2 separate regions of the Homo sapiens genome follow, and region 2 is linked to region 1. Evidence: fine-mapped QTL for protein levels in blood plasma. A gene starts in region 1. The other region holds a variant in brackets. All regions are shown on one strand. Distances are from middle to middle. Region 1 holds the start of GLCE (glucuronic acid epimerase). Region 2 overlaps PAQR5 (progestin and adipoQ receptor family member 5).

Region 1 (5,373 bases):
AAGCTGAGGCTGAAGGATCACTTGAGGCCAGGAGTTCAAGACCAGACTGGGCAACAGCGCAAGACCTTGTCTTTAATTAATTGAATAAATAAATAAATAAAATTAGTGAGGCGTGGTGGCACATGCATGTAGTTCCAGCTCCTCTACTGGGGGTGGGGATGGGAAGCTGAACTGGGAGGGCTGCTTGAGCTTTGGAGGTCGAGGCTGCAGTGAGCCATGGTAGCGATGCTACAACCTAGCCTGGAAGGCGGAATAAGTCCCTGTTTCAAAAGAAACAAACCAAAAAACAAGAAAAAAAAAAAACTGACACGAAGAAAAAGACTAAGGCAGGCAAAATTATTTGCTTTGGTATACTCAAATTTGTCTGTTAACCCCAGATTACATATTTACAGAACAGCTCTGAGTACGGACTTCACTGCCTGCCACATTAACTTTCATATACAGGCCTCTGTGATAGAGTAACTAACCAAAAGAAATGTCAGGCAAACACATAGGCTTTCTCACCTATACGCTGTTTTTTTTTTTAACCAATACACATACATACAAGTCATTTTATTTAAATCCCACCTACGCCTACGCTAGTTACCAAAACCTCTGTAATATCCAAGGCTAAATACACTTTTACAATACAATGAAACTGTTAAGCAGAATTCTCTAAAAAAGCTCGATTAACCATCCTTACAGGTCACAGAAAACGTTTTTGCAGAGTTCTAGCTTTGGGATTTCAAATTCCATTGTTTTCTGGAGGCTGAATTTGACGTTATCCCTCTCTACAAATGCTTTTCAAAGGACAGAAAGAAGCCAGACAGAACACGCTTCCCTGCACTATCCGACTCTGCCTAACATTCACTCAGGCAAGACTTCAGAACAGATCTAATCATGCAGGATGAGCAAAGCAGACCACCACCTAGGAAAGCAAGCCAAAATCAGTCTTCCCCACCCTCAACAGATTCCAGTTGCTCAGGAGCTGTATCCACGCTCAACCTGCGGACACCGGCCTCCTAAAGAACCTGCAGACCAAACGCCCACCTAAGGTGCTGCCACTCTAGCTCCCGGAGCTCCAGCGAGACCAGCGCGCCCCCACAGGGATCCCGGGGCAGAGAAAAGAAAACTGCAGAACAAACGCACTGCTTCTTCAACTAGGCAACAACACCGATCAATCCTCCAACTAAGCATTGAGTAAATCTCATCCAGAGAGAAGGAGACCTGAACAAAAACGTTTCAGGATGCTGCCCAGCCTGCGCGGTAGCACCAAAGCCCTCTCCCGCCCTCAGCGGACCCAGCGCCTGCGGAGCCGCGCCCACCCCGAGAGACTGCCCGGGGGCCAGCTAACTCGCCCCGTCGCCCCCAAAAGACTGGAGACCATGCCAAGTTACCGCCCCGCTCCGGGCAAAGCAGAAACCCCGGCCAGACGCTGGTCGCCGCTACACACCCTCAGCCCCCAACAACCCCCCAAGGCGGCCCCGGCCCCAGCGGAACGGATACATCGCTCTCTCACCCGGAGACACCGATGAACAGACCCCTCTCCCCAGAACCCGGACACACTGCTTCTTCATCCCAGCAATGCGAAACGGACGCCCACGCCCGCTCAAAGAACCCCCAAGACCCCGATGATCTGCCTCCAGAGACAAGGTTTACACCGGTGTAAACCTTGCTAAACTGCATTCTCTGCCCCAAAGAGCTCGGGACCCGGGTAAAAAGACCCCTTGTCCCGGAACCCCGCTACACCACCTCCAAGAAGCTCAAGACCCTGATAAATCTCCCTCGACGTCAAAGACCTAGGACCCCGTGTGCCGCCACCCACCCCTACCCCAAGCCGGAAGAGCCCCCAGGATCCCTAATACATTGCCCCCTCACCTCGGGAGCTCCGGCACCCGCTACACCGCCCTTGGGCGCCCGCGCCCGGATCCCACTGCACCGCCTCCTCGCCCCCCGGACTCCCAAACCCCGCCAAGCCTCGCGCCCACCAGGCAGCGCCGCGCAGCCCCCAGAGCCGCCCCCGTCAGGAGCCCGCCTGCTCCGGCTGCTCCGTGTCCCCGCTCCCCGACCGCTCCTCAGCGGAGACGCGCTCCGGGCTTTCTAACCTGAGCAGCGTCGGAGGGCGAGCAGACACGGGAGCCCTGAGGAAGAGAAGGAGACAGCAGAGAAGGGGTGGCTCAGGCCTGCGGTGCCGCAGCTCCAGCCTCTCGGCAAGGAAGCGCTTGTGTGAGGAGAGCCCTCCCGCTCCGCGCGCAGCCGGGAGACCGAGCCACCGCCGTGCCCGCAGCTCTTCCCGCGAGATCCCAGCCACGGCAAGGGGCGGGGCCACGGCGGGGGGCGGTAGCGGCAGCTCCTCGAGTGACAGTCCTGGCAGCCTGTCGGCTGCAGGACGGGCGGCAGGACTCGGAGTCTACTACGACCAATTGTAAAAAAGGAAAGGTGATTCTCCCCGCCCCTTCTCCGCCCCTCTTCTTCTCCGCTCCTCCTTAATAAACTGTGAGCAAAGGTAGTAGTGACCAGAAGTAGTAGGAGGCAGTGGACTTTCGCGGTAAGGTAGCTCGAATGACGTGACGTGCTTGGCTTGTGTGTGGTCCTGCTAGGCCGCCGTAGATACACCTGGTTTGGGGAAGAGGCTGGTCTTCACACCGGTGTAAACCGAGGTGCGGTTACCCTTGGTTACAGCGCTGCCCGAAGTGCGCTGGGGATTCCCATCTTCCAGGTTGAAGGCCCACCCACTCCGGTTACCCGCGTCTAAACCTCCATTTAATTCCTTTCCCCGATTTGGGCCTCTCCTCCCTCTCCACCTCAAACAGGGCACCATTGTTAAGATGCCCATGTTTTCCAAACCCCAACCCAGGACATCTGGTCTGACAAAGAACTCGTCTGATGACTGTATTTATTTCTACATACAGCCTTCCAGAAGAATGAAAAGCAAATCTCGAGTTACCAACATAACAAATTCCAAAATTAATGAAAAGTCGTACCTTTATAGACCCCAGTGCCCAGTAGTATTTGGCACACCCAGGGCACTGAATAATGTGAAAGGAATGAATTAAGACTGTTAAATATATGCAAATCTCGAGTTACCAACATAACAAATTCCAACATTACATGAAAAGTCGTACCTTTGTAGACCCCAGTGCCCAGTAGTATTTGGCACACCCAGGGCACTGAATAAGGTGAAAGGAATGAATTAAGACTGTTATACTTAAATATATTAAATCTGGACCTGGCCCCAGAAAATTCGGCTTTCCTAGCCTTTCCTCTATAATGTGAGCCAGTGGCTTCACCCTTAAATCCAGGCTCTTCATTATTATGCCTATCCTGTACCTTCATTCATCTTACCCTCTTCACTCCCTCACCCACAGCAAGAAGTGCCCTTTCTCCTCAAGGTTAAATCTTGCACCTGTGCCCTGGATCCCAGCCATTCCCAGATTTTATTCAGCTATTCTTTCTTTCCCCATTATTAATTTCTTCCTCTAACCTAAATCTTTCTCCCACAAACATAGTCTCGCCCATCCTTTGAACAGAACAAAGCCACCCAATCTCTTCCACCCAAACTACCTTCTCCTTTCTCCTAGGAATCACACTTCTTGGGAAACATTATATTTGCTGCTGAGCACTGTGGCTCATGCCTGTAATCCCAGCACCTTGGGATGCCAAGGTGGGAGGATTGCTTGAGGCCAGGAGTTTGAAACCAGTCTGGGAACATAATAAGGCTCCCCTATATGCAAAAAATAAAAAACTAGCCGGGTGTGGTGGCACACACCTATAGTCCCAGCTATTCGCGGTGGGGGAGGCGGGGTGCTGAGATGGGATGATCGCTTGAGTGTGGGAGGTTGAGGCTGCAGTGTACTGTGACCAAGCCACTGCACTCCAGCCTGGGCCACAGATTGAGGCCCTGTCTCTAAATAAATAAATAAAAGTATACTTGTTGTCTCCACTTTCTCATCTCTTATTTTTCCCACTACAGCGTTGCTTTTGCTCACACAATCTGCTATTCTTTCAATGGTTACAAAAGACCTCTTACCTTCTAGAATAATGGTCTATTTTGGGGTATCTTTCTCATGACCTCTCTCAGCTTATTGACAATGCTGACATCTCTTCCCTTAGTAGCTGCCTAACTACATTCTCCTGATTCTTTGGCAACTCTTCTTTTTTTTTTTTTTTTCCCTGTCCCTTGTCCTGGTTTGAAAACTTGCATATTTATGTCTCCTTATCTTATAGCCACACCTTGTGCATAATATGAAAAATGGCCACACACAGTTGCACACTTTGAGTGCCAATAAGTGGCTGAGACAAAAGCTGTTAGAAGAGTCCAGAGGAGGAGACATGGCTGTGAGGCTTGAGCTGGGTCATAATGAAACACTACGTTGGCCATATAAATCCAAGGCAGAAACGGAGGCCTTTCAGAGGAGAAAAATAATGTGAACCTGAGCACAGAGAAAAGGATGTGGGCTGAGCCTGGGCTGTAGGTCGACAGGTTTGACAGATAGAAGATTCCTGCAGAGAGTAGCGGGAGGTAAGATTAGAGAAAAATCAAATAGTAAAAGGCCTTAAAAATCAGGCCAAGCCGATTTGACTTGGATTCCATATTAAATGGGGAGCCGGGACCAATTTTAATATTTGTAGGGACCATGAGAAGGCTACACATGGAGACCCACATACCAAATGTCTAAATATGTGAAAGTTAAAAAGCTAACAAATGGAGTACTAAAAGCATTATATCCTTTCACCTTGACAAATGTACTTTCATAACAACTTGGAAGACCCAGTTTGAATTGAGAATTCTGAGACTTCTCAGAGCTCCTTGCTGGAACAAGGCAGGTCAGAGAGAACTGCTCCCCACATGGAGCAGCCTTTACCCTTTGCTTCCCATGGCCCCTTCAGCCCTACAGTGCCAGGTACCCTCCACTCCATGAACGCACTAGCCCACATGTCCAAGCTCTGTCTTCACTTTCTCCCCTCCAAAACAGTCATTTCTTGGCTATTCCACAGGTCCAGGGGTGCATATCTCAGGATCTAGGGGAGAAGCCTATGCAGGCTCTGGAAGTGGCTCAGAGCCATTTGGGCAGGGAATACTGGCTCCTGGGTACCTGATGTGAGGTCTGAAGGGGTACAGTCACCTCCAGGTGGACACATTTCTTGGCTTAATGGACTCCTCAGATGTAGGAGCACAGCTGGGGAAGAGCCAGAGCAGAGCCTTTAAAGGGAAGCCCTGCCTGTCTGCATCTAAAGGTGGTAGCAGCAGAGCCACTGAATTTCTTGGTAGGGTAATGACATGTAGAGTTGATCTATACCTTGAAGTATAAATATGTGCATTTTCTGTTTCCCACACCCTCTGCCTTTGCACGAGTATCTTAATAGCAAGAATGTACTGGAAAGACTCTATCC
Region 2 (5,312 bases), 250 kb before region 1:
ATGTTTTGTGACAGCTTGGAAAAAATTTCAGGTAGACAGATTAATCCGTCTTTTCTTTTATGGCTTCTGTTTTGTGTCATACTGGAAAAATACATCCATTCTGAGTTTTTTATTTTATTTCTCATTTTTTGTTTCCTAGTGCTTTTATTGCTTTGCTTCCTATGTTGAAGTCTTTGAATGATTAGGACTTTGTTGTCAAGCTAGAGTTTGGTATTTTGTTGGTTTGTTTGTTTTGTTTTGTTTTTTGAGACGGAGTCTGTCACGCAGGCTGGAGTGCAGTGGCGCAATCTCGGCTCACTGCAGCTTCCGCCTCCGGGGTTCAAGCAATTCTCCTGCCTCAGCCAGGCTGGTCTTGAACTTCTGACCTCAAGTGATCCACCTGCCTCAGCCTCCCAAAGTGCTAGGATTACAAGTGTGAGCCACCGCACCTGGCCTAGAGTTTGGAATTTTTATCATTTAGGAATTGGGCTTGGTTGCTGACTACTTATATCCTAGTTGCTCTTCAGTTTAGCTTCTACCTCAGACTCCATTGGAACTCTTGTCACCAAAATTACCACTTCCTTGATGCTAAATCTATTTGACTTTTGTCTTACTTGGCTTCTTAACAACACTAAAAAATGTTGCCCATTCCTTTCTTCCCATGCCTTTATTTTTTCTCCTAGCTGTCTAGCCCTTCTTTCTCAGTCTCCTTTGTGAGTTCTTTTTTTCTCCCTTAAATGTTGGGGCTCAGGGTTTAGAGCTGGTCACTAGGTGTGCCTTTTCCCTAGGCACTCTCAAGCACTCATATGGCTTCACATCCCATTCATGTTTGCTCTTCTGAGCTCCAGAGCCATATATCCAGCTGTCTTCTGGATTCTCCACTTCGATATCCCACAAGCATCTCACATCTAACACATTCTAATCTCTTCTCCCAAACTTGCTCCCTCTCAGTGGATGGCATCCACCAAGCCAGAGTCTAAAGCAACATTGTTAGCTTTTCTCTCTTCTTCTGTCTCAATATTCAATCACTAAATCTTAACAGTTCTACCTACTAAGTAGCCAAACCTCCAAACTGCTCCACTTTTCTCTGTCTCCTCAGCCACCATCTTCTCTTGTCTGATAAAGACAGCAGTCTCCTAACAGGCCTCTCTGCTGCCACTTTCCAATTCAGTTTCCATTTTGCTCATCTCTAAATCATGGATCTGATTATGTCACATACCTATATGAAACTCTGCAGTGGTTCCCCATTGTTGGAGACCCACCACAGGGCCCTGAGACGCTTCCTCTGGGGCTCATCACCCATCACTGCCCCCTGTCCCCTCTAGTCATGTTGAACTGCAGTGCCCTGAACACGCTGGGCTCACACGCCATTCTCTGTGCTGTCACGCTCTCCTCCCTCCTTTCCTCTGACAATGCCTTGCCTTCAGTTCTCTGCAGATCTGCCAGCTACCCTGCTGTGGATACTGGGCCCCGTGGTACAGCCCCCACGCCCCCAAAACTGCCCTTTCCCACTCACTGCACCTGTTGACTTGTTTCAGCACTCACATTCCAATTGGCAGTCACTGTTCATTCCTGTCTCCTCTACTGGCTTATCCCCACAGCCTCACTAGATGGCATCGTTGCATGCCCAGTGCCTAGCAGTGCAGGTGCCCCATACATGGCTTGAAGGGATGAATGAATCATCCCTTCAAAGAACGCTCCAGTTGAGGACCCAGTTACATCGCACCACCTCCAGCTTCTCTTCAGGCCAGTTTCTTCTTCCTCCCTCACTTCTGTATTAAAGTTCTCTGGCTTATTAATTTCCTTAAAACTACCAAATAATTACATCATTTTTCTATTCAAAAATAGCAAAGGGCTACCTATAGCCATTAAAAGATTTGCATTTTACCATAGAATTAGAGATCCAGATCAGGAGTGCGCGTAGGAGGGTGGGGAGAAGAGAACTGAGGGGCTTTTTTCTTTCTAAAGTCAAGTATTTTAGGTATAATTTACATACAGTAAAATGGACCCTTTTTAGTTGTATCGTTATGTGTATTTGACAAATATATAGTGTGCTGTAACCACAATCAAACGTATATTTCCATCACAGTGGAAAATTCTCTGGGCTGCCCCTACTCCCAGGCCTTGGCAACGACTTTTCTGATTTTCTTCCCTATACTTTTGCCTTTTCCAGAATGTCTTTTCTTTCACTCAGCATAATGCTTTGATATTCATCAATGTGTTGCATGTACCAGTAATTTGTTCCCTTTTTGTTGCTGAGTCTATTCCACTGTATGAATGCAGGACAATTTATTCATTCACCAGTTGGACATTTAGGTTGTTTCTACTTTCTGGAGATTATGAAACTGGTATAATTATTTGTGTAAAAGTCTTTATGTAGGTGTGTTTTTATTTCTCTTGGGTGGGATTGTGGGTCTTACGGTAAGTTTAACTTTATTAGAAACTGTTAAATTGGACCAGGCGAGTCTTATCCAAATCATTGAAGAGGGGCTGACACTACACAAATTCGAAATCATATATTAATCCAAACACCCAGATAAGCAAGTCCAGCTGTGGGAACCCAGTAAACACCAATGACCAGAAACTGCTGAAGCCCCGAGTGTTTGAGGGGAGGTGGTAAAATGGAGACAGCACTGCCTTGGGATCTTGGACATGCTCCGCACACTGTTCCCTCCCAGGCCCTGCTGGTCACTCAGTGGCCTTAGAAACATTGTCTCAGGTTCCCAGGCCATGAATCTCTCTCGCCAGGCCATTTGTAACATGAATGGTTAGATGTTAATGTTTACATACAGAAAACACAAATTAATAAAATCAACCTGGGGATGTGTGTGTGTGTGTGTGTGTGTGTGTGTGTGTGTGTGT[T/GTGTT]GGGGAGTTGGGGGACTGTAAAATTTACACAAAAAGAAACAAATGACTTGAACTATATTTCAAATAAATAACATACACAGAAAGGGGGAAATAACCCAGGTAACTGTGACTATTTAGAATCAAGCTTGCCCTCAGGGTCAAGACAAAAAAAAAAAACTTGAAACGTTTTGAATTCTAATTAGTAGGCACAGACATTAGTTGGTAATTCTGAAACAACATTCTGTACATTCTAGGATTGAGCAGATAAAATGTATCATGGGCTGGGTGAGGTGGCTCATGCCTGTAATCCCAGCATGTTGGGAAGCTGAGGCAGGTCTATCACTTGAGGTCGGGAATTCGAGACCAGCCTGGCCAACATGATGAAACCCTGTCTCTACTAAAAATGCAAAAATTAGCCAGGCATTGTGCCACGCGCCTGTAATCCCAGCTACTCAGGAGGCTGAGGCAGAATCGCTTGAACATGGGAGGCAGAGGTTGCAGTGAGCCAACATCGTGCCACTGCTCTCCAGCCCGGGCAACAGAGTGAGACTTCGTCTCAAAAAAAAATAAAATAAATAAAATAAAATAAAACATATTGTGGCTAATGGCAGTCAGCTTTCTCACTGTTGGAAAAGGGAGGAAAGGAGAAAAGGTGAAAAGTACCTGGGAATTCTTTGCACTATTTTGCAACATTTTTCTAAGTCTGAAATTGTATTTAAAAATGGTTGGACTATATCAGTGCTTCTGAACTCCCTTATATTAAAAATTACCTACAGCTTTAGCTAAAAATTTGAAACTACAGGATCACCTCCCCCACTGTGGGTAGTCTGTGTCAGTATGTTTGGGCCTGAGAATCTGCATTATACATCATCGAACAAATTTTAAAAGGGCTGAATTAAATGATCTTTGAGGGCCTTTCCTTCTGTGTTCTGGAGGAGGCAAAAAAATTCAGCCTGTTTCAGAAATCTGTTGCTTAGCATGAAGAGAATGAGCGTGGCAACTGTCTGAAGTTAATTTCTTATGAGTTGACACATTCCATACAAGTACCAAGAGACATAGGAAAGCCCTATAGGCAATTTCTCAAGGGAAAAAAAATCAGGAAAATCTCAGAATTCTTCAAAAATCAAGTCATCCAGATATCTTCTGGAGTTAACATCCTTCCAGTAGAACAAGTACCTGCCAGCCTTGGGACCCCTCTACTTAGCTCAACCTGCAATCCCTTCCCCCGACAAGCTGACAAGGCTGGCTCCTTTTTGCCCATCAAGTCTTCCTCAAATGTCAGCTTATCAGAGTGACCATCAATTCACATGCCCTACTAGGCTTAGTTTCTTTACAGCACTTATTATCTGGATTCATCTATATATCCTGTCTGCCTGCCCAACCAGAACACTAGCTTCATTAGGGAGGGACATTGCAGGTTTTTTTCACTTGTGTATCCCCAGTTCCTAGGACAGTGGCCATTCTATACATCCTAAGCACTAACTATTCATTGAATGATTTACTGATACACATGTGTACAGGGATCTGTTTCTCATGGTGAATTAACATATTTGCAGTGTGGTAGATAAAACATAACCAAATTAAGTGGCAAACAGGATGACTTTATGATAATAAATAAATTCTGTTTATTTTTTTCTCTCACATAGTTCAAGAAAACCAGACATTAGTGTAAGTTGGAGAACATCTGAGTTTGGAAACAGGTCTTTGCCTTAATGGATTGTTGACTAGAAAATCAGAGGCCGAAATTCAAATAATATGTTTTGAAGTGTTGTTGTACCGTGTTAATAGGTGTTTCATATAAAAAGGGTAGCATGGACTGGGTGCAGTGTGGCTCATGCCTGTAATCCCAGCACTTTGGGAGCCTGAGGCAGACAAATCACTTGAATTCAGGAATTCTAAGCCAGCCTGGGCAGCATGGCAAAACCCTATCTCTACAAAAAGTTAGCCAGGCTTGGTGGCATGCACCTGTAGTCCCAGCTACTCAGGAGGCTGAGGTGGAAAGATCACTGAAGCCTGTCAGGCAGAGGTTGCAGTGAGCCAAGATTGCAACACTACACTCCAGCCTGGGCAACAGAACAAGACCCTGTCTCAAAAAATATTTTTTTTAATTAAAAAATGTTAAAGGGTACCATAAGGTACAAAATAGTGTCAAATGAAGGGTTTCTTGAACATATCTGACAATGCCATTCTACTACACCGCACCTACCTCAGAACCTCTCATATGAGCAAGTTTCTACTGGGCGGGGCAGCAGGGGGAACAACACTTCCAGAAAGACTTCAGCAGACCAAATATTTAAACCACTTTATACTCAGAAGACCTCTAAATTTCCCATAACATCCTACCAACAATTACAAATTCTTTTTTTTTTTTTTTTGAGGCAGGGTCTTGCCCTGTTGCCCAGTCTGGAGCGCAATGGCGCAATCATAGCTCACTGCAGCATCCAACTCCTGGGTTCAAGCAATCCTCCCACATCACCCTCCACAGTAGCTGG

Evidence for each region. PIP is the posterior inclusion probability: the model's chance that the variant is causal. Protein levels are from the aptamer-based SomaScan assay of Sun 2018.
Region 2: its variant is fine-mapped to the plasma level of the GLCE protein (Sun 2018, PIP 0.95).

Annotation. Positions count from the first base shown.
Region 1 is chr15:69,157,469-69,162,841 of GRCh38, reverse strand. It overlaps GLCE (glucuronic acid epimerase), which reads right to left and starts at 2,207. Exons shown (of 5, transcript NM_015554.3): 1 at 2,085-2,207. It also overlaps the pseudogene LOC100421574. RefSeq lists silencers at 1,828-1,937, 2,138-2,347 and an enhancer at 2,045-2,545.
Region 2 is chr15:69,406,753-69,412,064 of GRCh38, reverse strand. It overlaps PAQR5 (progestin and adipoQ receptor family member 5), which reads right to left. Exons shown (of 9, transcript NM_017705.4): 9 at 4,285-5,312. The region is part of intron 1 of KIF23-AS1 (KIF23 and PAQR5 antisense RNA 1); the gene reads left to right. Among named protein-coding and RNA genes, the nearest start is that of KIF23, 4.9 kb to the left of the region's middle. The variant T/GTGTT (reference allele first, on the strand shown) is at 2,842.